Linked DNA regions of Homo sapiens: region 1 is linked to region 2. The links come from fine-mapping of genetic effects on gene expression. A gene starts in region 2. The other region holds a variant in brackets. All regions are shown on one strand. Distances are from middle to middle.

Region 1 (12,914 bases), 42 kb before region 2:
ACAATGTTCACTATTTGGGTGAAGTGTTCATAAGAAGCCCAGATCTCACCATTACACAATATACTCATATAACAAATCTGCACATATACCCCCATAAATCTAAAATTTAAAATAAATAAATAAATAGAAAGAAAGAACAAAAGATCTTTAGTTCTTTAGGAAGAACTAAAATATGGTATAATTTTGAGCAATTAGAGGAGTCGGGGGAAGTACATTTGGCTCTGATGCTAGAAATGTTCTCTTTGACTAGCAAAGGGATTGTGATATTAGGCCTGGAGAAAAGAAAATGCACGCTCCTTAGTCCTGTACTAAACAATATCAACATAACATAGATGTTCATTTCTGGCTCTTAATTTTTAGAAACTCTCATAGACAAAGCATAGAAAACTGAGTGGCTACAAAACAAAATGTACATGTTCTCCACACTCACCGTGTAAAAAATAAAGGTTTAGCTTGACAGAAACAGGGAGATGAAAAGGGAAGAAAAACAGGTTGGGAAGGAAATACCTTCATTTTGCAAAACGGGGGGTCAAGAGATGCAGTTGAAAGCAACAGAACAAGAAATAGTAGTTTATATCTATTCTTTAAATGTATGTGGTAAGCAGTAGAGGAAGTTTAAAATACTAATATAGCTATCAAAAATTGGGAGGAGAGAGGAAGGGAAGGTAGGGGTGGTGCAAGTGAGGGAAATCCTCATGTAGCCCATTGGGAGAAATGGATAATGTCTCCAGTTGACATAGCACTAAGAGTGGCCTTAGCCTATTATTTTGAGGTATGGAGGTAACCTTCAAAGGTAAAACTGAAGAGAATTAAAAGTTCTTGCCTATAGGCATCGGGAGGAGGGACAAAGAGTGTTTAGGGGAAAATGATTGGTGATTCTTGTCATAAGTCCTTTCTGATGTTTTTACTATTACTACAAGAAAATATTTTTCAAAATTAAAAACAAGTTTTATTTCACTGCTTTAGACTAGGCAGGGTTCTGATAGGAAACAGATTATATTCTCAACCCAAGTAACTGAGCAGAATTTTAACAGGACCATTTGCAATTGTGTGGGCAGGCTAGGGTAGGGAAACCTACAAGGCTGGCACAGTAGCCACCAGCATTAGGTTGCATTGACCACCCCTCGTCCTCAAAGGCCAGGAAAAGGAAGTCTCTGCTGAATTTGGCAAGAGAGTGGCTGTATGGCAAGGGATGTCTGACAAGAGCTGAGGCCTTTGCAGAGGACATGATGACCCATGGTAACCACACAGGGAGAGGTCCCAGGGAAATAAATAATCTTCTTCACCCTGCTTTTCCTCCCCAGGATTCTCTTGTTGCTTCTTACTGGCCAGACCCAACCAGAAGCCAGAACTGTGCTGCCCAGTAAGAGAGCCACTAGCCACACTTAGCTATCTAAGTTAATCAAAATTAAATAAGGTTAAAAATTTAGTTCCTCAGTGCTCAATAACTGGTGGCTAGTGGCTGCCATCCTGGACAGGGTAGACATAGGACATGTTCATCATCAGTAAACGTTCTACTGGGCAAAGCTAATAAAGGGTAAAAGAGGGTCAAGACCTTGTTCATGAAGCTTATCCTCTGGGGCACAGAGGAAAAGGAGAAGGATGGTGAGTGGATCTGGGGGGACAAACAGAAGATGTGCAGCATGTACAGCACATTGAAATGCATCTTGCAAGATGCTCTATTAAAATATAATAAAAAACTGGAGTTTGGGAGTGTGTGTCAATGGTCGAATAAATGTGACAAACTGTACATACTGTTTCATTCTCATGGACACTCAAGATATACATCAGCCTAGTAACAGCTCTGGGAAATCCTGGAAATCTATTTAATGTTTGTTTAAAAATAGGTGTTTCTCAAACATTTTTGGCTAAGAAACTTCTTTTCTTAATGGGAAGGGTTACAATATCAATTCACAGAGCTCTTTTGATAATGGACATTTATCATTTGTCGACTTCCAAGATCCAATCATTCTCCTTATTTGGGATGGGGGATCCCAAAGGAGACAGGAAGGTTGGATCTTTCTCCCCAGCACAGAAGCTGAATAGTAGCCAAGAAGCCTGCTACTTGGGGGGCATCAGATCCCCCTCAGCCATGCTGTGGTTATGAAAGGCACCACTCAGATCTCCTGCTCTGGGGGTATGATTGACAGCTCCAGCTGCTGCCTTCCTGATCCATCCTTGAGTTCACACCACCGTTGCCCTGTTGCTTCCAGCAAGCGACTGAGGGCAGCAGGGATATTAAGAGGCATGCCCCCTCCCGCAGACATGGGCCCCTTTGAAGACATCTTTGGCTTGAGGACTACTCGATGGCCCGTCTAAGACCTTCCTGCAGCCTGAGACACCCCTACACACTCTCTCTTCCCATGCCCCATTTCCCAGGTCTTACACCTGTACCTGTACTTAAAAGCTCTCCCTGCCATTCTGGCTTCCTCTCCTTTTTCCTTCACAGGCATTTCCCCCAGTAACTCTCCCACAAGTCTAATCATGTCTTAGGGTCCACTTTCTGGAAGACCAGAACCAACACAACTCATCTGGATCTTGAGTAGTGACTCCAATATGTGGGAACACACAGAAATAATCCAGGCCAGAGTCTAACGACATGGGGGGGTGCAGGGGCAGGTTTCTTGGATGCAGCTTGTTTGGCAGGTCCAGTGTTTTCTTTTAGTTTGCTTTCACAGAATCTGAGTGTCTTTACGTGTGGTGTGTGTTCTGCCCCAACCCCCACTACCCACTATTATCTTACACCCATGAAAACTAGTTGTTCCTATTACCTGCCTGACACATGCAGGTATTTGAACTTGAAATCTCTAACTTAATGTGTACATCTGCCTAGGCGGTGAGAAATCACACCAGATTGCTCACAGCTTTTCAGAATCCTAGCCCAGTGACCCATGACTCCCACCCTCTGCCCACTGTTTTACCATGATTCAGAGGCCATTATGTTTTAGGCAGTGTAATTGCTCCAGTTATCTTTTGCCCTCTTCATTGGGCCTGGCTTCAGTTATTTTACCTCTATGTTAGAGATTCTCTTTGAGACACCTCTAAGTACCCACTTTCCCCTCAGAACCTAATTTCTGGTTTCCAAGCCCTGGAGACATCATCCCTGAGTATCTTCTGTCTTCTTTTCTCATTAAGCCCATCCCTACTGCCTGCCTCATGTCTGCCCCATGGTCTACCCCTTCAAGCAGCCCCTGCCAGTGAAATTCACCTCACCATGGGCAGCTCTTATCACTTTGACCCTTAGCATGAATCCTAGCAGTCTCTGACTACACTCTCATTACATGGTATGTGCCTTTATATGGAATGGATAGAATTCACCTGCAGTGAATTTTAGGTAGAGCTTGGACATTATATTAGACATCATTGAATCTTATATTGAGAAAATAATTATTTTTTCAATTCTGATTATATCAAAGAGAAAGTCTTAGTTTGATGCTAGTCTGGTGGTTAAAAACACCACTCCAACTCTTTCTAATTTCCCTTTTCAATAAAGAACAAGGTGGCCTCAGACTCAGGGGCTTGGGCCAACAACATTGGTCAGAATTTGATCATTGTTATTGTACTTATTTTTGTCATTATACTTATTTTGTCATTACCTCCTATGGCAGGGATATTTGTTTTCCTTTAGAGTATTGATTTAAAGTTTATTTTTAAAGTAAGTTTATTTAGGGAAACAGTAAATCACTTTAAGAAAATATTGCTAATAGCACTAGTGGTATTAAACCATTGCAAAAATCCTGAAAGGGACAGATAGATAAATCAAACAGGAGGAATATCACCCCAATCAACCTGCATAGCCACAGTTCCATGCCTATGTGCCTTCCATCTGGGTGCCACTAGGTGATCCTTATTGATGAAGCCTGTTTGAGTTGGGTTTCCTTTTCTTTCCTTTTTTTTTTCTTTTTTTCCTTTTTTTTTGGAGTTGGAGTCTCACTCTGTTGCTCAGGCTGGAGTGCAGTGGCACGATCTCGGCTCACTACAACCCCCGCCTCCCGGGTTCAAGCAATTCTCCTGCCTCAGCCTCCCGAGTAGCTGGGATTACAGGTGCCTGCCACCACGCCCCATTAATTTTTGTATTTTTAGTAGAGAAGGGGTTTTGCCATGTTGGCCAGGCTGGTCTCAAATGCCTGACCTCAGGGTGTCACCTGCCTCGGCCTCCCAAAGTGCTGAGATTACAGGCGTGAGCCACCATGCCCAGCTAAGGTTTTCTGTAACTTACAACATAAACTAACCTTAATGCCTAGCACTAGGCATAGAACAGGTGCTCAATAAATATTGTCAAAAAATAAATATAAATACAATATGGAATGAATAATAGAAGACCTAATATCAGAACTGTTATGTGGTAATACAGTCGTCCCTCAGTATTCAGAGGAGTTGGTTCCAGGACCCCCTGAGGCTACCCAGATAAACAGTTTCTCAAGTCCCTTATATAATACGACGTAATATTTGCATGTAACCTGCACACAACCTCCCATATACTTTAAATCATTTCTAGAACACTTATAATACCTAATGCAATGCAAATGCTATGTAAAGATTTATTGTATGTTTTATTGTTGGGTTGTTATTTTCATTGTATTGTTTTCTCAAATATTTTTGATTCACAGTTAAAATCCTGGATATGGAGTCCGAGATATGGAAGGCCAATTGGCTGCCAAAGAAATGGGAGAGACAACACGTGCGGTGGCTTCAAAGGAGGAGGGAGAGTTGAGTTTAAACTAATGAAGTAAAGGCAGGGATGGGAGACTGAAAGGAAGGAAGACGCTGACACTTCTTCAGTGTGATTGTATGCCATACACTGTGCTGGGTGCTGTTAATACAACAACGCTTCTGGCTATGTACTGTTTAACCCCATTAGAAATAAAGCAACAGGAGTTCAGAGAATTTAAGTAACTCGATTTAGGTCACTCAGCAATTAGCCAGGCCAGACATATACCCAGGCTGAAGGATGGCCAAGCTCATTAAGTCAGGCAGCTAGAATTGAGACCAGTGGTGAAATAGAATGAGAGCATTGATATGAACGTGGTTTATACACTTTTAAGGGCTACGAAGATCATTCCAGAGGAATGAAGGAACAAGGAGAGAATTGTGTCAACAAAGACTGGCACATGGCAGGATTCCACTCACTTTCCACAAACTTTGAAGGAAGAAGTAGCTAATTGAATCTGAAGTTTCATTCACTAGAAACTAATAGAGAATTTACAATAATTTATCCTGGATGGAAAGTAAGATCCATCATGTACATGTTAGACAAGAGAAGCATTTGATCCCTTATCTTCCTAGTTAACATTCATCTTGAACACTGATTATGTGATAGTCTTCCTAAAACAAATAGCAAGGGGGATGGGGTTGGGGAGCACACAGATAACAAAAAAGTTTTGATGAGCTTTATGGAGACAGGAGATAATTTGTTGATATAAAAATACACCTGTAATCCCAGCACTTGGGGAGGCTGAGGCGGGCGGATCACTTGAGGTCAGGAGTTTGAGACCAGCCTGGCCAACATGGTAAAACCCTGTCTCTACTAAAAATACAAAAATTAGCTTGGCGTGGTAGTGTGTGCTTGTAGTCCCAGCTACTCGTGAGGCTGAAGCAGGTAAATCGCTTGAACCAGTGAGGCAGAGGTTGCAGTGAGCTGAGATCACACCACTGCACTCCAGCCTGGGCGACAGAGCGAGACTCTGTCTCAAAAAAAAAAAAAAAAGAGACGCTTTTGCATGTACTTCCTTTCCACCACCATCTGTCACCTAGGAAAACCTCTACAATCACAAAGCTTATCTGAAAATCTGACTATATTCAGGCAAGATTCAAACCAAGAGAAGTCAAACCTAGAGACACGCGGTTATGAACTATAAACTGTTCATAAGGCCCTGGGGTTTTTCGGACCACTTGTGCCCTAACCAGCCTGTGGGCTCCCATGTTCATTATCCTCCCAAGTGTTAAGGCACAAGGTATCAGGCATCAGGCAGTTTTTGTATTAGGAAGACTATCACATAATCAGTGTTAAAGATCAATGTTAACTAGGAAGATAAGGGATCAAATGCTTCTCTTGTTTAACATATACACGATGGATCTTACTTTCCATCCAGGAGAAGTTATTGTAAATTCTCTATATTAGTTTCTAGTGAATGAAACTTCAGATTCAATTAGCTACTTCTTCCTTCGAAGTTTGTGGAAAGTGAGTGGAATCCTGCCATGTGCCAGACTTTGTTGACACAATTCTCTCTTTGTTCCTGCATTCCTTTGGAATAATCTTCATAGTCCTTAAAAGTTTGTAAACCATGTTCATATCAATGCTCTCATTCTATTTCACCACTGATCTCAATTCAGGCAGTTTTTGTTGCACAAAACCTCAGAAACTAAAACAACGAACATTATTTGGCACATGTCTGCAGAGCCCAGCACTGCTCTACAGTGGGCTTGACTGGACAGCTCTGCTGATCTCGGCTGGGAGCACTGAGGCATCTGGGGCTTGGCTATCGCTTGGCCAGTCTAGGCCAGCCTTGGCTGCAGTGACTCAGCTCTGCTCCGGGTGTCTCTCACCCACCTCTGGAATCAGCGGGCTACCTCAGTCATGTCATTCTCACGACGATGGAAGCAGTGCAAGAGGAAAAGTGAAACATGCAGGAGCTCTTGAGGCCTAGTCTCCAGACTGGCACACCATCTTGTCTGCCTTATTCCACTGACCAACATAAACCACCAACTTGAGCCCAGAGTCTGGGTATGAAAGAGCTGCACAGATGCATGGCAATGGACATGAATATAGTGAGGGTGAAGATGGGGACCGTTACCGGCTCCAGTCACACCTAGTCTGCAAAAGACTTGGCTCACTGGTTGGGCCCAAGAGGTTCCCTGAGGACAATGACTGTATCTATTTATGTTATTTCATCTTTTCAATCACTTTGCAAAACAATATCATGACTCCAACTTATAAAAGAGGATATCAAGTTTCCAAAACATGAAGAAATAAACTACTTAAAATCATCTGTCCCTTCACATTGGATAGCCCTTGAAATTGAACTCCAGCACCATTATCAGTTGCTAAAGTTCCC[G/A]AACCATTCCAGGGAGGGACCTTCTTAATGGTCCAAATCTCAGCCAGGCATTATTCTTGTGATTTCAGGGAGTGCGCGGCTCTGGGCTGAGGCCATTGAGACTTGTATTTGATGGAGAACCAGGCTTTAAGGAGAAGGAAACAGTATTTTGAATACAAGGCGCTGCTCTTATCTTCTATCAATAGATAAAGTTTTGGGATATGCACCTTCCACTAAGGCTCACAAAAGGATTGGCAGCATTTTGAAAGGGCAAAACAAGTTTTTCTTTCTTTTCCCTCTCTTTTAGGGTGAAGTAGTTGCATTGATGGCCACTCTTGGCTTCCTACAGTGAAGTCACCTCAGACTTTGGGGGTTTTTCTACAGAGGTGGAGGTCAGGATGGGTCCTGGGAGGTGGGAGGGGGTGCTGTGTCCAGCTCCCCAGCAGATGTACTATTGTGGCTGCCCTGGGGAAAGGCTGAGAACCTATGGGGAGGGTTGAGAAAAAATTTCCAGGAGCTTCATGGTGGCACCAGGCAGGAGGGAGTCCAGGGCCTTCCTCCACACATACTGTGCTTCTGCCTACAATCCACATCATACTCTACCCTGTGTGCATATCACATACTGAAGGAACCAAGCTTCAGTTCAGTTTGTTTCCAGCACCTTCATCTGCTAATGCCATGTTAGGCATGGGAGATACTAAGATGAACCATAAATGGTCCTTGCCTTTAAAGAGATTACAGGGTAGTGGGAACATCAGGAAAAAACAGAAAGGAAAAGAGAAATGCGATTGGGTGGCATAGACTGAATAGCCAAGGCAGCATGTAAGAGGCAGTAAGATCCTCTGGAATGATGACTTCGAAGCTAGGAGTTGAAGTACAAGTGGAAATTTACCAGACGGAATCTGGAAGAGAGACTTCCAAAGAAAGAGAAGATGCTGACTCAGTCTTGGCTATTAAAATGTCCATATTCCAAAAGCATGAGTATTGAATTCAGATGGCTGTCTAGAATCCTCCAACATACTGGACTCATCCAGGACTCTCTGAGCCTTAGTTGCTTCATCTGTGAAATGGGAATAATCTTAGGTACCTGACAGCAGTGTGCTGACAACTAAATGAAATACAGTTTGTGAAAACATTTTATAGGCTATAAAGTGTAACCTCTGCAGATGTTCATTGCTCTTATCATTGTTAGTGCTATTACTATTCATCATTAATTTGGGGCTTAGTTGGAAACTATGGATTCAGAGACAGATAAAGCAGATCACCCTGCCCTCAAGGTGATCACAGTCTAATAATAATGTCACATTATTGTAGGGCTTATTGTATGCATGTCCTGTTCCCAGCACTCTATGGCTATTACCTCATTTCATCCTCATGCCCACCTGAGAAGCAGGTGCTATGGTCATCTTCATTTTTCAGTTGGAGGAAACAGGGACACAGAGGGGTTAAGGAACTTGTAGAAGGCCACTCAGCTGATGGGTGGTAGTGCCTAGATGTGAACCCAGACATGGTGGCTCCAGAGAATGCACCTTCACCACTACCCCACACAAGTAGACAGTCAGCTAAGAGACAACCACAATATGATGTCATAAATGTTGTGAGCCTGTTACAATGCAGTAAATGTGCCCGATGTCCTGGGATAATAAGGGGGTATATGTTGAGTGAGGGGGTGGGGGAGTTGTCAGCAAAGTCTTCTTAGAGGAGATGGTCCCTGAACTGAGGTCTGGCTAAAAGGTGGAGCAAATTGTGCCCTGCAAGAAGAGCAATATGAGCAAAGCCCCCAGAACTGAGAGCAGAACTGCTGTCCTCAGTGTGGGAGGGACAGAGAGAAGGGGCAGGGTATGGCTGAAGATGTGGCAGGAGCCAGGTCCTGAAGGGCTGGGGCACCATGCTAAGAAGCCCCAACTGTCTTCTGAGGGCAGCAGAGTGCAGAGGCGCACTGTGTGTGGAGGGGAACCCTGGGTGCCTCCCTCCTGCCTGGTCCCACCATGAAGCTCCTGAGCATTTTTTGTCAAGCCTTCCCATAGGTTCTCAGCCTTTCCCCATGGTGGTCCCGTAACACCTCTGCTGGGAAGCTAGACAAGCACATACCTCCCACCACCCAGTACCCATCCTGACCTCCACCTCTGTAGAAAAACACTCAGAAGACAGTTGGGGTTCTTTAGCATGTGTTGGAAGGCTCACTCCAACTACACTGTGGTTGACATACCAGGAGAGGGGATTATGGGCAATAGCTGGAGGCAGAGAGACAGTTCAAGTTCTGACACAAAAATCCAGCTGCTAGGACTGGTATCTGAAGGTGGAGTTGTGGCATAGGGGACGGAATGTTTGAGAACTGCTAAGATATAGCAATTGGTGAAAGAGAAAGAGGAATCAAGAGTGACTACTGAAGCCCAGTCAACATAACAAGACTTTGTCTCTACTAAATATAAAAATAAATTAGCCAGGATTCATGGCGCATGCCTGTAGTCCTAGCTACTCAGGAGGCTAAGGTGGGAGGATCATTTGAGCCCAGGAGGAAGAGGCTGCAACGAGCTATGATCGCACCACTGCACTCTAGCCTGGGTGACAGAGAGAGATCCTGTCTTAAACAAACAAAAAAAAAGAGGTCCCTGTTCTGGGTGACTGGGTGGGTCAGGATGGCAGGCAGCAGGATCCGAAGGTGAAGATCTGGGAAATGCTGACATTTAAGGGAGGGCCAAGGAGGCAGAGCCCAGGGAAATCTGACACAAGCAAGCAGAACAGAAAGAGGAAAACAAGCGAGGATCCTCCAAGAATTCAAAGGAAGTTGAAGGGTGACAAATTTAGGTTAGATACCAAGAATTTACTTCCAACAAGAGTCCTGAGTCCTTAACCTAGAGGAGCATTTTTCCTTGTGATAGAAAAAGTCTTTGTTTTTAGTCTTATTTTTTGTATTTGTCTTTGTCTTTCCAGACTTCACATTTCACTGCCTCACTCATTTAGTACTGATTAATTAATTTCTCAATATCTTTGTCTACTCATTACTGCTCTCTGCACACAGAGACATAACGGGATGGAGGAGGAGGTTCTGCTCATTGGTATTTGCAATGTGCTGAGACTGATGAATGAAACGCTAAACACACTGTCACCATCACCAATAATAGTAGCAACTGACTCAGCCCCCATTTATTGAGCATCTATTACATACAAGGTGTTCTGTTATGAGTTGCAAAAACATGGCCAATAAACAAGGTAGACATGATGACATTTCTCTTTTGCAGAGGGAGAAACTAAGCCTTGGAGAAGTTAAGTGAGCAGCTGAATATCACACAGCAAATAATAAATAACAATGGAACATATGCATATAGCCCTCAGGCAGCCCCCCAAAATTTTCACCAAAAGACTTCCTTGCCATCCTTGCTGATTTGTGAGCAGAGAATGAGTTATGTGTGGAACGCGGAGAGGGGGTGGGGGCGGAGCAAAGCAAAGAGGGATAAGAGGACCCAGGTTAGGGAATGACTGTTCTCAACCCCAATATTTGAAGTCATTAGCTGTGCCTTCACACACTTAGTACAGGCTCTTTCAGAAAACAATAAGCACCTGAATGGCTTTTCATGCTAGCCACAGGAGAAACTGAACATACTGATGCAAAAATTCTGGCCAGCTTTCCTTCAAGAACACAACTTATAAATCATTCATTCACTTAACAAATATTTACCAAGCACCTACTAGATTCAAGCATTGAACTGGGCCAGGGATACAAGGACAAACAACAAACCAACCAATCAGTGGGTGAGAAACAAGAGGGTGTCTTCTTGGGTTGTCTCTGAGGAGGGGACACTTGGAGAGTGAAAATGGTCAGCAGGGGAGGTGGAGGGCCCTTTGGACAGAGAGGCAGCTTGGCAAAGGTCTCTCTTCTCACACTGGGTTTGTACCACTCCTCACCTCTTTATCTTGCAAACTCCAACTTATCCCTTAAAACTCTGGGAAGGTTGGCCTGACCTCCAGGGCTAGTTTTGCAGGTTTCCTGTGGGCTTCTTGTGCATCTTGAGTGCAGTTCTGTAGTAACAGGTATTTGCAGGTGTCCCAGCCTGTCTATCCCTAAGTCTGAGCTCTCTGGAGGAAGGGGGCATATCTTCTGGCTCTATGTCTCCAGTTCGGGCTCAGAGTAGATCCTCGATAAACACAGTAGAATTGCTGCAGCATGCTGCAATACATGTCTAAGGATACATCAGGACCCTTTGGGTGGTCTTGGGCAATACTGCCCAGTTAACCACTTTGCAGTTCCTTTTTGAGGAAAGTAACGGAAAGATTGGAGGTCCAGGCTCTGCCAGAAGGACTTGAGCAAATCACTTAAGGTTTTGTTTTCCTCTTTTATCCAATGTGAGCGTTAGACCAACATTATGGGCCTGGGATGGTATGTGGTTTATCAGAACCCATGCGTAGGCTGTTTGCACAAGAACAAGTCCAAGTTAGCCTGAAGTTATTGCTACTTTTTGACATCGAGATTTTCTTTGCAATGGTCAATGGTAGGATTAATTACTGTGGCTGTTCCATGGGCACTCGAAACTAAAATATATTCCCTAACTTCAGGGCACATAGTATGACATCTATCCATCATATCTACGTTTGTGATTATGTCGCTTAGGTCTTTTTATATCTTTATTTTCAGTCAAATTGATTTGAGAGGATGTGCTGCTTTTTCGAAACTGAGATGTAGAGAGGCCGAGGAGGTGCCAGTTCCTGCGGGAAGGTAGAGTATGGAGAAATCACAGGGTCTGTAGATCATCTCCAATCAAACATCACTCTGGCTGTAAAGAAAGGCCCCTGCCCCAAAATTCAACAAGGTCTATATTTTCTCATTTTTATTGGTATTATTTGAAAGGAGGAAGAATCAACTTTTTATTCAATCAGGTAATTTTTTATTGTTTTCTATCTTTCCTATACATAAATTTTGTTTCCCAAATCAAGTTGGAAAACTCAGTCCTCCTTTTATATCTCCATGGTGGGTAGGACAAGGTCTACTCATGGCTTGGTGGGGGATTTTAAATGGTGATGTTGCTAATAATTACACCTAAGCACTTACTATGAGACAAGTTCTCTTCTAGATATTTTGTATGTTTTAGATTATTTAACTCTTACATCAATTTATAATGCCACCATTTTACAAATTAAAAAAAAAAAAAGCAAGGCACGTGGACGTAAAATAACTTGCGCAGGTTCAAACTGCTAGTGAGCAGCAGAGCCGGGGCCCCAGCCTGAGACACTGTGCTCTGTTGCCGCTTTTAGAGACCAACTCACCCACTGGCTTCACTACATGCGTGAAGAAACAGGAACTTGAGTCTGCTAAGCAAGCTGCCGGGAGAACTAAAACTAGACCCCTGGTATTTGGACCTTTATCCAGAGCCTTCCTGCTGTGCATCGCTGCCCCTCACAATGCACAGAAGCTGTATTTGTGGCAGCAAGAGGTTGTCATTTGCTGGATGACATGGGTTAATGGTTTAATAGCAACTCCTGCCTACCTCACCTCACAGGACTGCAGGGCCAGCACCATAGGAGAAATAAAGATGATGTAATCAAATATTATCTAAATAATGTATACTTTTTGAGTCCTGAATAAATCACCCAGCTGTGGAATACATTCATGTTTAATATTACTAGGATATATAAAATGATTTAGGACTGGGGGGATTGGAAGTAAAGAAAACTAAAATTCCACAAGGGCCAAATCCTTCTAGGTGGGAAGACTTGTATTTTTTATAAGCACCTCCTCTCTCTCCAATTCCCATGCACATGACCTTCATTCTTTGTTTATAGATTGTGGGTGTCACCCTTGGAAACAGGCATTTTCCCAGAACAAGTAAGAACTAATGTTAGCCAATAGGAGAGAATACTAGTCAGCCCTCAGGGGAGAGGATG
Region 2 (12,914 bases):
CTCTGAGTTTTCCAGTATCAAACAACCTTTGAATGAATTTTGGAACAAAGCCCTCATGTAAACCGCAGAGAATGGGGCTGAATTACAAATAACTAGTATGAAAATGAGAATATCTGTAAGTACTAGTAACCTCCACAACCTGTCAGTTCCATGTGATAAACACTTAGACAACGGGCCTTTTTACTGGGGCTATGCCACATCAAAGCTCTGTGTTCAACATTCAAGAGGAAATTCTGTTCCCAAGCTAGTCCTCACTGACCTACTTAGTCTATAATGTAATTGAACTCTATGGCTTAAAGGACTAAAAAAACTAATCCACAGTATAGCTAATTCATGGGAAAACATACTCTAAATACCAACTGAAAATGCCCTGAAACATCTCCTCCTGACCTGATCCTGCAGACCATTCCTTGCTGTGGAATCCAGGCATATGAGCATGCCATGCATTCTGGTTGCTTTCAGCAAGGTTCAGTAGCTACAGAACTCTCCATCATCATCATCATCATCATCTGGTTGCTTTTGGCAAGGTTCAGTAGCTACAGAACTCTCCTTCATCATCATCATCATCTGGTTGCTTTTGGCAAGGTTCAGTAGCTACAGAACTCTCCTTCATCATCATCATCATCATCATCATCATCATCATCTGGTTGCTTTTGGCAAGGTTCAGTAGCTACAGAACTCTCCTCCTCCTCCTCCTCATCATCATCATCATCTGGTTGCTTTTAGCAAGGTTCAGTAGCTACAGAACTCTCCTCCTCCTCCTCCTCCTCCTCATCATCATCATCATCTGGTTGCTTTCAGCAAGGTTCAGTAGCTACAGAACTCTCCATCATCATCATCATCATCATCATCATCATCATCATCATCTGGTTGCTTTTGGCAAGGTTCAGTAGCTACAGAACTCTCCTCCTCCTCCTCCTCCTCCTCCTCCTCCTCATCATCATCATCATCATCTGGTTGCTTTTAGCAAGGTTCAGTAGCTACAGAACTCTCCTCCTCCTCCTCCTCCTCCTCATCATCATCATCATCTGGTTGCTTTCAGCAAGGTTCAGTAGCTACAGAACTCTCCTTCATCATCATCAACATCATCATCTGGTTGCTTTTGGCAAGGTTCAGTAGCTACAGAACTCTCCTTCATCATCATCATCATCTGGTTGCTCTTGGCAAGGTTCAGTAGCTACAGAACTCTCCTCCTCCTCCTCCTCCTCCTCCTCATCATCATCATCTGGTTGCTTTTAGCAAGGTTCAGTAGCTACAGAACTCTCCTCCTCCTCCTCCTCCTCCTCATCATCATCATCATCTGGTTGCTTTCAGCAAGGTTCAGTAGCTACAGAACTCTCCATCATCATCATCATCATCATCATCATCATCATCATCATCTGGTTGCTTTTGGCAAGGTTCAGTAGCTACAGAACTCTCCTTCATCATCATCATCATCATCATCTGGTTGCTTTTGGCAAGGTTCAGTAGCTACAGAACTCTCCTTCATCATCATCATCATCATCATCATCATCTGGTTGCTTTTGGCAAGGTTCAGTAGCTACAGAACTCTCCTCCTCCTCCTCCTCCTCCTCCTCATCATCATCATCTGGTTGCTTTCAGCAAGGTTCAGTAGCTACAGAACTCTCCATCATCATCATCATCATCATCATCATCATCATCATCATCTGGTTGCTTTTGGCAAGGTTCAGTAGCTACAGAACTCTCCTTCATCATCATCATCATCATCATCTGGTTGCTTTTGGCAAGGTTCAGTAGCTACAGAACTCTCCTTCATCATCATCATCATCATCATCATCTGGTTGCTTTTGGCAAGGTTCAGTAGCTACAGAACTCTCCTCCTCCTCCTCCTCCTCCTCCTCATCATCATCATCTGGTTGCTTTTAGCAAGGTTCAGTAGCTACAGAACTCTCCTCCTCCTCCTCCTCCTCATCATCATCATAATCTGGTTGCTTTTAGCAAGGTTCAGTAGCTACAGAACTCTCCTCGTCCTCATCATCATCATCATCATCATCATCTGGTTGCTTTTAGCAAGGTTCAGTAGCTACAGAACTCTCCTCCTCATCATCATCATCATTATTCTTTATAGGGCACCCATTTATGGAAGGCCTACTCCCTGCCAGACATATAGTAACTCTACTCTTCAAAACAAACATAAAGGTAGACATTATCATCCTCATTTTACAGATGAGGCTACCAAGTCAAAGAGATTCAGCAATTTGCTTATGGTCACATGACATGCAGTATCAAAACTGAAATTCCACTTCAGGTCTGATTCCAAAACCCATCCTCTTGCCTCTATACCTTGAATTCCATTCCATCTCAACTGCTCAGACTTCTTTTTCGGCAGATGGTTCTATATAAAAGTGTTTGGTTACTGAAAAGATGGTTAGATGTTGAAATACCATCTCAACTATAATACACTCTCAGATAGTAAGCCAAAACAAGCAGGTGACTATACAATTGCACAAAGATGATGAGAATAAATGTAAAATCACCTTGAAATTTTCTTTAATAGTACTAGATCAAGGTGTGAAAATGTTTTAAAGTAAAAAGAAAAAATAGCAAACTAACACTCTGTATAAGAACATTAGTTGACTCTTTACTTCCCCAGATCCCAGTAGACACAGCACGTTGCCCTCACGTGCTGCTAACAGCTGCTAGAAGATGGGCATACTTTGAGTAACCCACATTGAGACAGCGTATCATTTGTTTCTGTTTGTGATTTTTCCAAAAGGGAATTAATGGAAAGGGGTATTTTATGTTTAATAGTATTTTTAAAAAGGAAAATAACTTCAGTTTAAAAAAGCTATTTCAGTCATGCTAGCCCCCATCTCACACTGACCAGCATTTGTCAAAGGGCACTGATATTTTAGGCAGGACAATTATTTGCTGTGTGAGACTGTTCTAAGCATTGCAAAACATTTAGCATCCCTGGCTCCCACCCACTAAATGCCCCCTCCCCTATTTGTGATAACCAAAACTGTCCCCACAATGAGAGCCACTGATTGCTACAGACTTCATTCTATTTCAAGACAGCTAGAGACTTTCTGTTTATTTATGTTTTCTACCACAGCTGCTTATTTAACCTTTCCTGGCAGTGCTTGTTTAGTTTTCTACTTCGCCCCAAAAGTTTTCCTTAAAAATAACACATTTGCTTGACATTTATTTGAATGAGATTCAAAAAGCTAATTTTGTAACTACATCATAATACAATAGTATATAATTACTGGTGACAAAAAATAAAAGCTTTAAGAAATAGCAGGGAACTGGGAAATCATCTATTCCAAGGGGTATGAGACCCCCATGCGAAACAAAACAAAAAAGTTGTATATATATGCATTTTTTTCTGGGATGAAAGTTCCATAATTTATATAAAGTACTCAAAAAAGTCCATGATCCAAACAAAGTAAAGAATCAGTAATCTAACAATTCTCTCACTCTATTAGCAAGGCCAATGACATGCAAAGTAGTCAACTGGATTAACAAGATTAAGACAGTACCATCAGTTCTTATTACCACAAACGTGTATAGTGAATGCCAGAAAATGACCAGACTCATCAAAGGGATAGAGGCGTCCACAAAACCATTTCACCCCCTACCATGCAACAATGAAATTCCTTTAAAAGCATGTTTATAATATCAGTTGCACACTAGAGGAGTCAGAGGAGTGGGTTATTTTCAAGGGAAAGTAAGCTCCCTTAGTTTACTTTGAAGTTTGTTTTTCTGATTTTGTACTGATACCATTTTCTTAAAACAAAGTGGATCTATATCTTTAAATATTAGTCTTACATTAATGATAAACTTGATGCTCCAAAATTTTTTTTAAAAATCTATATTTGAAAAATTTAGATTACTTGACAAATAATTTGCTGACCAGGGAAAAAGTCTCTGGTATAAAGATACTGTTTAAAGGACAATATGTCAATAGATTCTCGAAAACAATCTTGGTAAATAGGCAGGTGTTGTTAGTTTCCATTTTACAAAATAAAATAGGTTAAGTAACTTTCCAAGATCACAGAACTGTTACCAGGTAGCACCAGGACTAGGCTCACCCACTCTGACCCCATGTCCGGAGTTCTTCCTGCTTCACCACACTGCTTCCATTCACAAACATGGTACAAAACAATTTAAGTGCCACACAAGAAACCGTTTTTAAAATCATGTTGGTAAACTACTATTAATACCAAAATAATGTTTTCAACAATTCACAAAGAAAAACTTTCCACCAGACTTGAAAAATTCTACGCTGAGCCCTGGCCTAAAATTTCTGGAAAGTACAATACTAAACAAAAAGAAAAAAAGTTGAAATAATTTGCATAGATCAATGATGAATCATCAATACTGGAAAAACATTATTCCAGGTGTATGGCTGCCTATTAATGGATTGATATTATTACTTTCAGGTTAAAAAAGAGTTATAAGTGATTATGAGCTTCGTGAATAAAAATCAAGGTTCATGTTGGCCACTGAAACAACTTAGAGGCAACAAGCATTTGAAAACAAACACACATACAAAATCTTCTAGTAACCTTAAGAACCTGTTGCATTGTAACAACTGCAACACCCCCTAAAACCAAATGACAAGACCATTCCTCTTCCAATGATTAGCCGTAAAAGAAGTATTTTTACTCCCTCAGATAACCCTGTTTCTTCAGGTGCTTAGGTCACGTAAGCTACTAAATAATAAAGTTAAATTACTACCTCACATATTTTTCATCATATGCTCTCTTAATTAGAATAGCATTCTTGAAATAGAATAAGCACTAACATTAGAAAAAAACAGACTTAAATCAATGCAACAGTTTAATGCTCCCTAAATAAAAACACATCTACATGTATCATGGGCTAGAGACGTTAAAAATTTCTAGGAAGAAAAGCAATATTTGCCTTATAAACACTGCAACTCTTTCCTCTCAACATTAAAACCCAAACATAGAAACCAGTAAGTTAGCTGCATTTACAGCCCCTTACAGGTTTTAAATGTCACATCTCAGTGCCTAAAAAAGTTACTCCATCGTTTCGAGATAAGTTTCTGAGAACAAAGAAAACTCTTTAAACTACTGAACTGCATTTTATTCTTTCCTTTTCCGTGTGACCATCTGCAAAAGCAACAGTTGTCAGTTAAACAGAATCAACCTCTTTCCCGAGTGGACATGATTCACAGCTTGGTCACTGTACAGCAGATGTGAACTGAGAACTACGACATAACACAATGACAAAACACAGTACTGAGCACAAAGTACAGGGAAAGAATGAAAGACAGAAAACAGGAAGAGCACACGTCTGATTTTTGTTTTCTTTGGGGCCCCCATTAGTAGCATTCCCTTCATCCATCTTCATTCAGTGGTTCACTATCAGGGCCAAACCCAAAAGTTACAAAACACCATCTAGCTACTGTCTGGCTGCTTTTATTTTTTCTGCACCAGGACGGGAGCACGCATTCCCCTGCAGTCCTCAGCTCCACCGCAATACTGATACCAAACAGTTTCAGTGGCCCAGCTGCCAAGCCTAACCATTCCTTTTTAAAGCATTTCTTCATCAATCCTACAAAACAGCAAGTTCTTCATGGTATATTTTCCTAGAGCATCTAGCTAATATCATACTTTAACAACTTTTTCCAACGTTAACTGGACATGGGTCATTATCACTTAAGTGTTAGCGCCATTGCCCGCGCCCACTCCCATAATCCACACTGCTTTCCTTCTCCATATTGCCAATCCCCACTAAGCAACCCTAAAATCTAGTAATTATCATCAAATCCACTTCTAGGCCCTGGCAAGAATTATTTGGCTTTACCGAAACACCTATTCCATAGGTAACCAATTCCAGTCAAAAATGCCAGAGTATTACTCCTCAACCCAATGCCCTATCTCCTTAGTGGATTATAAACTTACTACGACAACCTGTCTTCTTTGGATCCAATCCCCGCCCAAGTCTGAGTCTTCTCTCCCAGGCTACAAGCCCCCAAGTCCTGGCAGCTCTATGCTTGACAGCTCGCTGACCTCCACCTCATCAGACCATTGGGTCGCCCTTCTCGCCGTCCTCCAGCCTTCTTCCCGCTCAGACACTCATCCACTGTCCGGGGAGCCTCGACCCCTCCTATACCCCCTCCCCGATCCCGCAGTCCCCTTCTGGACCTTGCGGACCCCTCTCAGGTAAGCGGAGCCCCTTGCCCTGCAGGCCCATCAGTGGTCCTGGCTCCCCGCACCTGCCACCAGGGTTCCCAGGCTGCAAAAACACAAGTAGTTCTTCTTCCCAAGGGCCACCCTCCTCCTCAGGCCGCTTTCCTCAGCACCACGTCACCCGCGCTTCGCCGGGAGACCCCCAACTCACCCCCGCCTCCGCCATCTTCTGGGACCAGCCCCCGTACCCCCTACCGCCTCTTCCTCCTCCACTCCCACAACTCCGCCCGAGCTCCACTGCGCCTGTGCGGCCAACGAGGCCGCGCGCAGGCGATCGGGGCAGAAGAGCTTCCGGTTCCTGCTGTCAATAAGACGTGGACCTGCGAGCCGGGGCAAAAGGGCTTCCGGTCTGCGGGAAACTGGAGGCTAGCGGTGGGCGTGGACCGTCGAGGTGACTGGCGGTTGTCGGATCTGCTGTTGTTTGCTGACCAGGCAGCCGTAGGTAATGACGGATGCCCAGACCCTGTGGGCGGAGTAAAGGAATCATGCACTGATACACGCACACTCACCGAGGGGCGCGTCCGTCTGCGTGCCCCTCATCTCGTAGCCGAAAGGAGCGCGTTCCGGGGCAGGCCTCCGGGTACTTCCCGCAGAGGACCGGGCTTTATACTCTTTGCTCCTTTTCCTCCCCTAGTAAGTCATAACTTATTTTGGGAGAAGGGCATAGTTATTTGTCTCTCGTCTCCATGCTACAGCACTTTATGTGCTTTTCATTCAAAATCGTTCCTCGAGGACGACCAAGTAATGTGATTTGGGGGACAGTTTTCATAGGAAGGGCTTTATAAGTTTACACCAACATAAAGAAAACTTAAAAACCTTATAACCGCTTATTTTTCAGAAGTATTATTTTTCATTTAATCTAAAACCATACTTTTAGAACATGAAACCAAGCCAAACAGATCTTTGCAGATTGTGCAAGCGAACTTTTTTTTTTGAATGAAAGTGGTGCCATCAATGCAAAAGCAAGCCCATATAAGTGCCGAAAGGTACTCGTCATAAGGAGGAGTTGCTTCCCTATTCTGAATTTTTATTTATTTTTATTTATTTATTTATTTGAGACGGAGTCTCTCTCTGTCACCCAGGCTGGAGTGCACTGGCATGATCTCGGCTCACTGCAACCTCTGCCTCCCGGGTTCAAGTGATTCTTCTGCCTCAGCCTCCCCAGTAGCTGGGACTACAGGTACATGCCACCATGTCTGCCTACTTTTTGTATTTTTAGTAGAGATGGAGTTTCATCATATTGGCCAGGCTGGTCTCAAACTCCTGACCTCGTGATTCGCCCGCCTCATCCTCCCAAAGTGCTGGGATTACAGGCGTGAGCTGCCCCCTGAATTTGTTTTTTTTAAGCAACTCTTTTTAAAAAGAGAGAAAAAATAATCTCTCTTGAGTGTATTAGTTATTGAGCTATTCCATTTGGAGGTGGCTTAACCCAAAACGTGTATGGATGTGGTAAGATTACAATGGACTTGAATGTTCTAGATGAAATCTGGGCCGAGAGTAATTGCATAATAGTTTTCCAAAGGACTGTCAGATGGTAAACTCCTTTCATTTACTTTGAACTGATAAACGATAAGATGGATTTTTGTTTTTTGACCTTTTTATCTACATTTACTTCTGAAAATTGAAAAAGAATCTGAATTCCAACAAAATGTTTCTAGGCAAGTATTTGCATGATGCTTCTCTAACATTTCCTATATCTTAGTGTTTTCTCTAATGTTTTCTGTAGCTTTCAAATTTCACTCCTGTAAGTTTTTACACTACCAGTAAGAAAGATCTGGGCCAATTATACAGAATGGACGATGATTTTTAAAAGAATAGAGAAAGCATTCAGAAAAGAGACAATAATTTGAAAATGTTCTGACATCATGTATTTCCTTAAAGCAATACAAGTCCTGTATGTCCAGTTCATGTCTACTCCAACCGAGCTTTTTTCAGACACTTAGAAATTGCCTTCAAGAAAATCCTTATGGAACATTGTAACCTAGAGGGGCATTTATTTTCGTTTAAATATGTATTAATTGCAAGTAGTGACAGAACCTAAAAAGCAAAAACCATATAGCACCAGTTCCAAGGTTCCTATATCTAATGCAGTTACTCCTACTGCAGTACAAGGAGGAATATAAAATCCCTAGGAGAAATACAAAAGGCCATTGTCTTCTTTGACCAGATTTGAGGAAAGTTTTCATGGAAGATGTGGTCTTTCAGTGGGCGTTGAGGGTAAATATGCAGATATGGTTAGCCTGTGCATTCTGGTGGAAGCTCAGAGTTGGAAAAACATGAAACAGATTGCAGAGTCTGGCATGTACAAAGAGGTATGGTGAGACATGTGAGTTCTAAACATCAGGCTCATGAATTTGGACTAAATTTTTGTTATGGAAACATGGAAATCCTAAATTAATTGATGCCAGAATATAAATTGGTTAAGAACATCAAGAAATCATAACAACTGAGTTATTTTGAAGTTGGTGTAATGTGGTCAATGGAACGCTGGTGAATGATCCTTGAAACCTGGATTGTATTTTAGCACTAAGACAGTATGCGTGTAATCACTTGCAATAAATTCATTTTTTTAGGCTTTCTTCTTTTCATCTGTAAAATGAGAGATTGGTTTAGATGATTTCTGAGGTCTTTTTTATAGGTAGAAGTATCAACAATTTGATAATTCTTGACCTCAAGAAAGGTTTTTTCCATTAGCTTTATATGTTGTTTGGTCTCCCAACCAAGAAGATCAAAGATAAGTTAGAAAACAAAAAGCCCTTTACTTAGCTAATACAAACACCCACAAAAGTTTATTGACTTTGTTGGAGTGAGATATTGTAGGAGTCACATTAATTATTGCCTACAGGTTGATGACTAAGCCATTCAGTAAGCCTCTAAGAACCTTGGACTTGGAAACATTACCCAAATTAAAAACATCCAAGATAATTTTTTTACTATTGCAATTTTCCTATTCAGTAGCTAGAACCCCACACACTACAGACCATTCTACTTTTTTGGTTTTGGTTTTTGTTACGGTGTTTTGATGTGAAATATGTTTGAGGGACATAGAAAGTCAAGGAATTTTGCTTTTTTGAGAGATCAGAATGGATTATTTACTAAGCCAGCTATCACCTGAGCACCTGGCAGGTACCAGACACTTGGCACTGGACTTTAGGAGGAAATCAATACAGACAAGCCACATTCCTTTGTGAAGCTAGAGTCCTGTGGGGGAAACACAGTAAATGGTGGAATTCATATGTAATTACAAACTGAGACAAGTGCCATGAAGATGGAACATCTCCATATTGTGATGGAGAATAAAGGGGAATACCTGGAGACCATGCGTGAGCTGAAGATTGAGAGGGATCTGCTAAGAGCAGGATGAAGAACAGGTGTGAGGGCACAAAAGCTGAAAAACTTGGTGCATTCTGGGAATTGAAAGAAAGGCAGAGCTGGGGGTAGCAATTGAAAAGAAAATTGCAAATTGAAGTTGTATTTTAACATCATGATTGATGGTAATCACTTTCTGTGTGCCAGGCACTGTGCTAAGTTAAATCTCATTTCACATGCTCAAAACCCATTTGAAATAGATACCAAATAGCAGATGAGAAATTAAGGCTAAAAGCAGTGATTCTTAACTTTGGCTGCATATTAGGATCACCCATAGATTTATTAAAAGTTCTAGTGCCCGAGCCCCACCTGAGCGTTGAGAATCACTGACTTAGTGTTAATCAGTCCAAGGTCACTTCATAGCTAAGTGGCAGAGAAGGCAGAAATTGAACCTAGATCTATTGGATTCTAAACCCTATGCTCTTAGTCACTCACTAGTGCCCTGTCAACATTCACAAGCACGTAGTAAGCAGCAGTTACATGTGGGAACTCTGTTAAACACTGAGACACAACAATGAATAAGACAGATCTCTTGCCATCAATAAATTCACAGCCTGGAAATGCAGAAGTTAGGTCAGCCCACCTCTACAGAAGCAAGTCAACTGAGAACTCTCAATGAGATCAGATATATTTTTCCTATTTTAAGCTAGATTGATGTAGGCAACTGATGACAGGGAATCTACGTGGGCAGCTAGTGCGATTGTCTGCTGAGAGGTGGTGCAAACTTAACAAAGGCAATGGCAGAGGATACAAAGAATCATCAGGACTTGATAACTGCTAATGTTAGGAGTGAAGAAAAGAAGGTGGAAGTTGATTTCAAAGTTTTGAGCCTGAGAGACTGAGTGAAAGTAACATCATTGATCTAGAACAAGAGTACAAGAATTGAATTTCAGGTTGAGTGAGTTTGAAATACTTGTTGAACATTCGGGTAAAAATGTCCAGTAGAGCAGTGGAAATGTGCATCTGGAGTTTGAATCCCCAAATTGGTCTAGAAATGAAGATCTGGAATTATTGACTTAATAGGAGGTAGTTGAAAACATGCCTTGCATAAAGCGTATGCTGTGTTTGGAATTTTTTAAAAGACAATAGAGATACGAGAAAGAAAAGAAAAACCCTGACATTGCCATACTTGAATATGTCAATAAAGCTATTTTTTATCTACAGTGGTATTAAACACAATCAATTCATGATTATCCATGATGAGTTTTTAATACTTTCCAGGCTTTCCTTGGCCACATAGCAAATGTAATAGATGAGACATAGCCAGAGAATGCAAACCAATTTTAAATATTGGCTAAATATTTAAGAATAATGCTATATGATGCATTCAGAAATGTAATAGGAATATCCTAGAACAATGTTTTCACACAAATAATTTTTATGTACCCCTCATACTGACTTAAATTATTTTGATCATAATATTACTTAAACCTAAAAAAGTTACAATGTTCTAAACATAAAACTAGAGAGAGAATTCTTAGGCTTAAGCTCATATACATCATAAAAGCAAAATATTTGCAAACTCACTGTGAAGAAAAGCATAACGTAAGTAAGCTTAAAAGTATAGTAATGTAAAGGACATCTTGAAATGGATGTATAATGTCATCAATATTGAGGTGGATGGTAGGGGGCAGGGGGAGGTTTGCACATCAACAGCTCCAAAAAAGGAGAATGAGGACATTTATCTTTTAGTGGCATAGCACTTTGGGGGCATTTTTGGATGGGTCTGTACAGAAGCAATGACACCTAAAGTCAATAAATTGAATGTATATAAAGTCAAATGGTCGCTGTAAGGCTTGGTATGTATCATCAGGCAACAAATAAACTAAACAAAGCCCAAGCGAGGTCACTATGGATGAGCAAGCAAATGCAAAATACACCTCTAAGACAAAGCTACTGAGGTGTAAAACATCAGAGTGAGAAGACAACTGGAAAGATTACAGACTATAAACTCTTTGTCACAGAGGCAATGATAGAGACCCAGAATATAAAAGCGACACTAGCTATTAATTATTACAAGGGCCCATACAATTTGAGGTCAGAAAACATAACAAGGTGTTCTCTAAAAGATTTTTGTCCTGCTAATTCACCGTACTGTTGTTTCATCTCTGGGACACGCCATTCAAACTGAACTCACACATAATGGGGTTTATATAATGTTAGGTCCCTCCCGAAGACAATGTATGTATTCTTATCTCTAACTGAACTTAAGCTAGACTCATGGTTGTCTAAGAGTGTATATTATTTTTATAAGACACTGATGGAAGTAGCAGAGAATTTCCTCTGACTTGCTAATTATATGTATGTATACATTTATATGCATTGGTTCACAAAAGCAGAGGGTTTCATTTGATAGCAGATGAAGGACACGATGATCCAATAATTAAACTTACCCAAAAGAAATATGTATAAAGCTAGCTCATGTAACAGACATAAAACACACTATAGAAACTCAAGGACTTGAATTTAGATTTGTTCTGGGATTGAGACTTGCCAAAACCAAAAACCATCAAAAGAATTTCCCATCAAAGTAAAGAAATTATGTGAAATGATTTTAAATTTAATACTCTTGGAATTTGAGAAGCATTACTTTTTTTAAAGGCTAGGAATTAATACTTTGGTAATGATTGGAGAAAACTGAAAGAACTTTAAGAAGCAGATCTTAGATTTATAAAATTAATTTTGGTATTGAGCTGTAATAGAACCATCATCAGAAAAGCCATTCCAAACTGAGAAACAGTATGTGTAGCTCATCAATGGCCTGAAGACTCCTGGTGATGTTTAATATTCTCAGAGGATGTATTAGCTACTCTAGCTTCAGTGGATCCCATTTCTCCTTTTGGAGATTGATCCAGTGTCCTCTCCTGGAAATAAGAGCTCAGTTTTATTTGAGGAAGCCTGGGGCATGTGCACTGTTTAGAATAAGGCATATCTGCCTTGCAGGCTGTGCTCTCCACTACCAGCTGCATATTCTTGGACAAGTTATTTCTCTGTTCTTCAATTTCTTCATCATACAAGTGCCTCCTGTTGTAAGGAGTAAGTGTGATAAAGTAGTGGTAAAAGGTCATAGTTTTGCAGATTTATTCTTATTCGCTTTAATATTATCTTTGACAAATGACCTTCCTATGTCTGTTGAATGCCTTCAGTTTGGGAATTCCTCACCTCTTGAGGAAACTGCTTTTATCTTTGCATAGGTCCAGGTACAAGAGAGTTTTTCCTAGGGTTCAAGTCTCTCCAGCTTCTTTATGGCTCCCACACATTGCCACTCAATTCTGTGTGCCAGCCTTTAAATTGTTAAATCTGCTTCCTGCTCCATGCTCCCCGAAGATCCTTGTCATGTCTAAATATACCCAATTTCTT

Evidence for each region. PIP is the estimated chance that this variant, and not a neighbour inherited with it, causes the effect.
Region 1: its variant is fine-mapped to the expression of INSIG2 in whole blood (INTERVAL, PIP 0.94).

What each region holds. Positions count from the first base shown.
Region 1 is chr2:118,124,069-118,136,982 of GRCh38, reverse strand. It overlaps LOC124907879 (a long non-coding RNA gene), which reads left to right. Exons shown (of 2, transcript XR_007087211.1): 2 at 4,611-4,887. Among named protein-coding and RNA genes, the nearest start is that of INSIG2, 42 kb to the right of the region's middle. RefSeq lists enhancers at 5,796-5,875, 12,765-12,914. The variant G/A (reference allele first, on the strand shown) is at 7,056.
Region 2 is chr2:118,081,964-118,094,877 of GRCh38, reverse strand. It overlaps INSIG2 (insulin induced gene 2), which reads right to left and starts at 6,407. Exons shown (of 6, transcript NM_016133.4): 1 at 6,337-6,407. It overlaps LOC107985940 (a long non-coding RNA gene), which reads left to right and starts at 6,447. Exons shown (of 3, transcript XR_001739662.3): 1 at 6,447-6,627. RefSeq lists enhancers at 6,453-6,642, 6,653-6,702.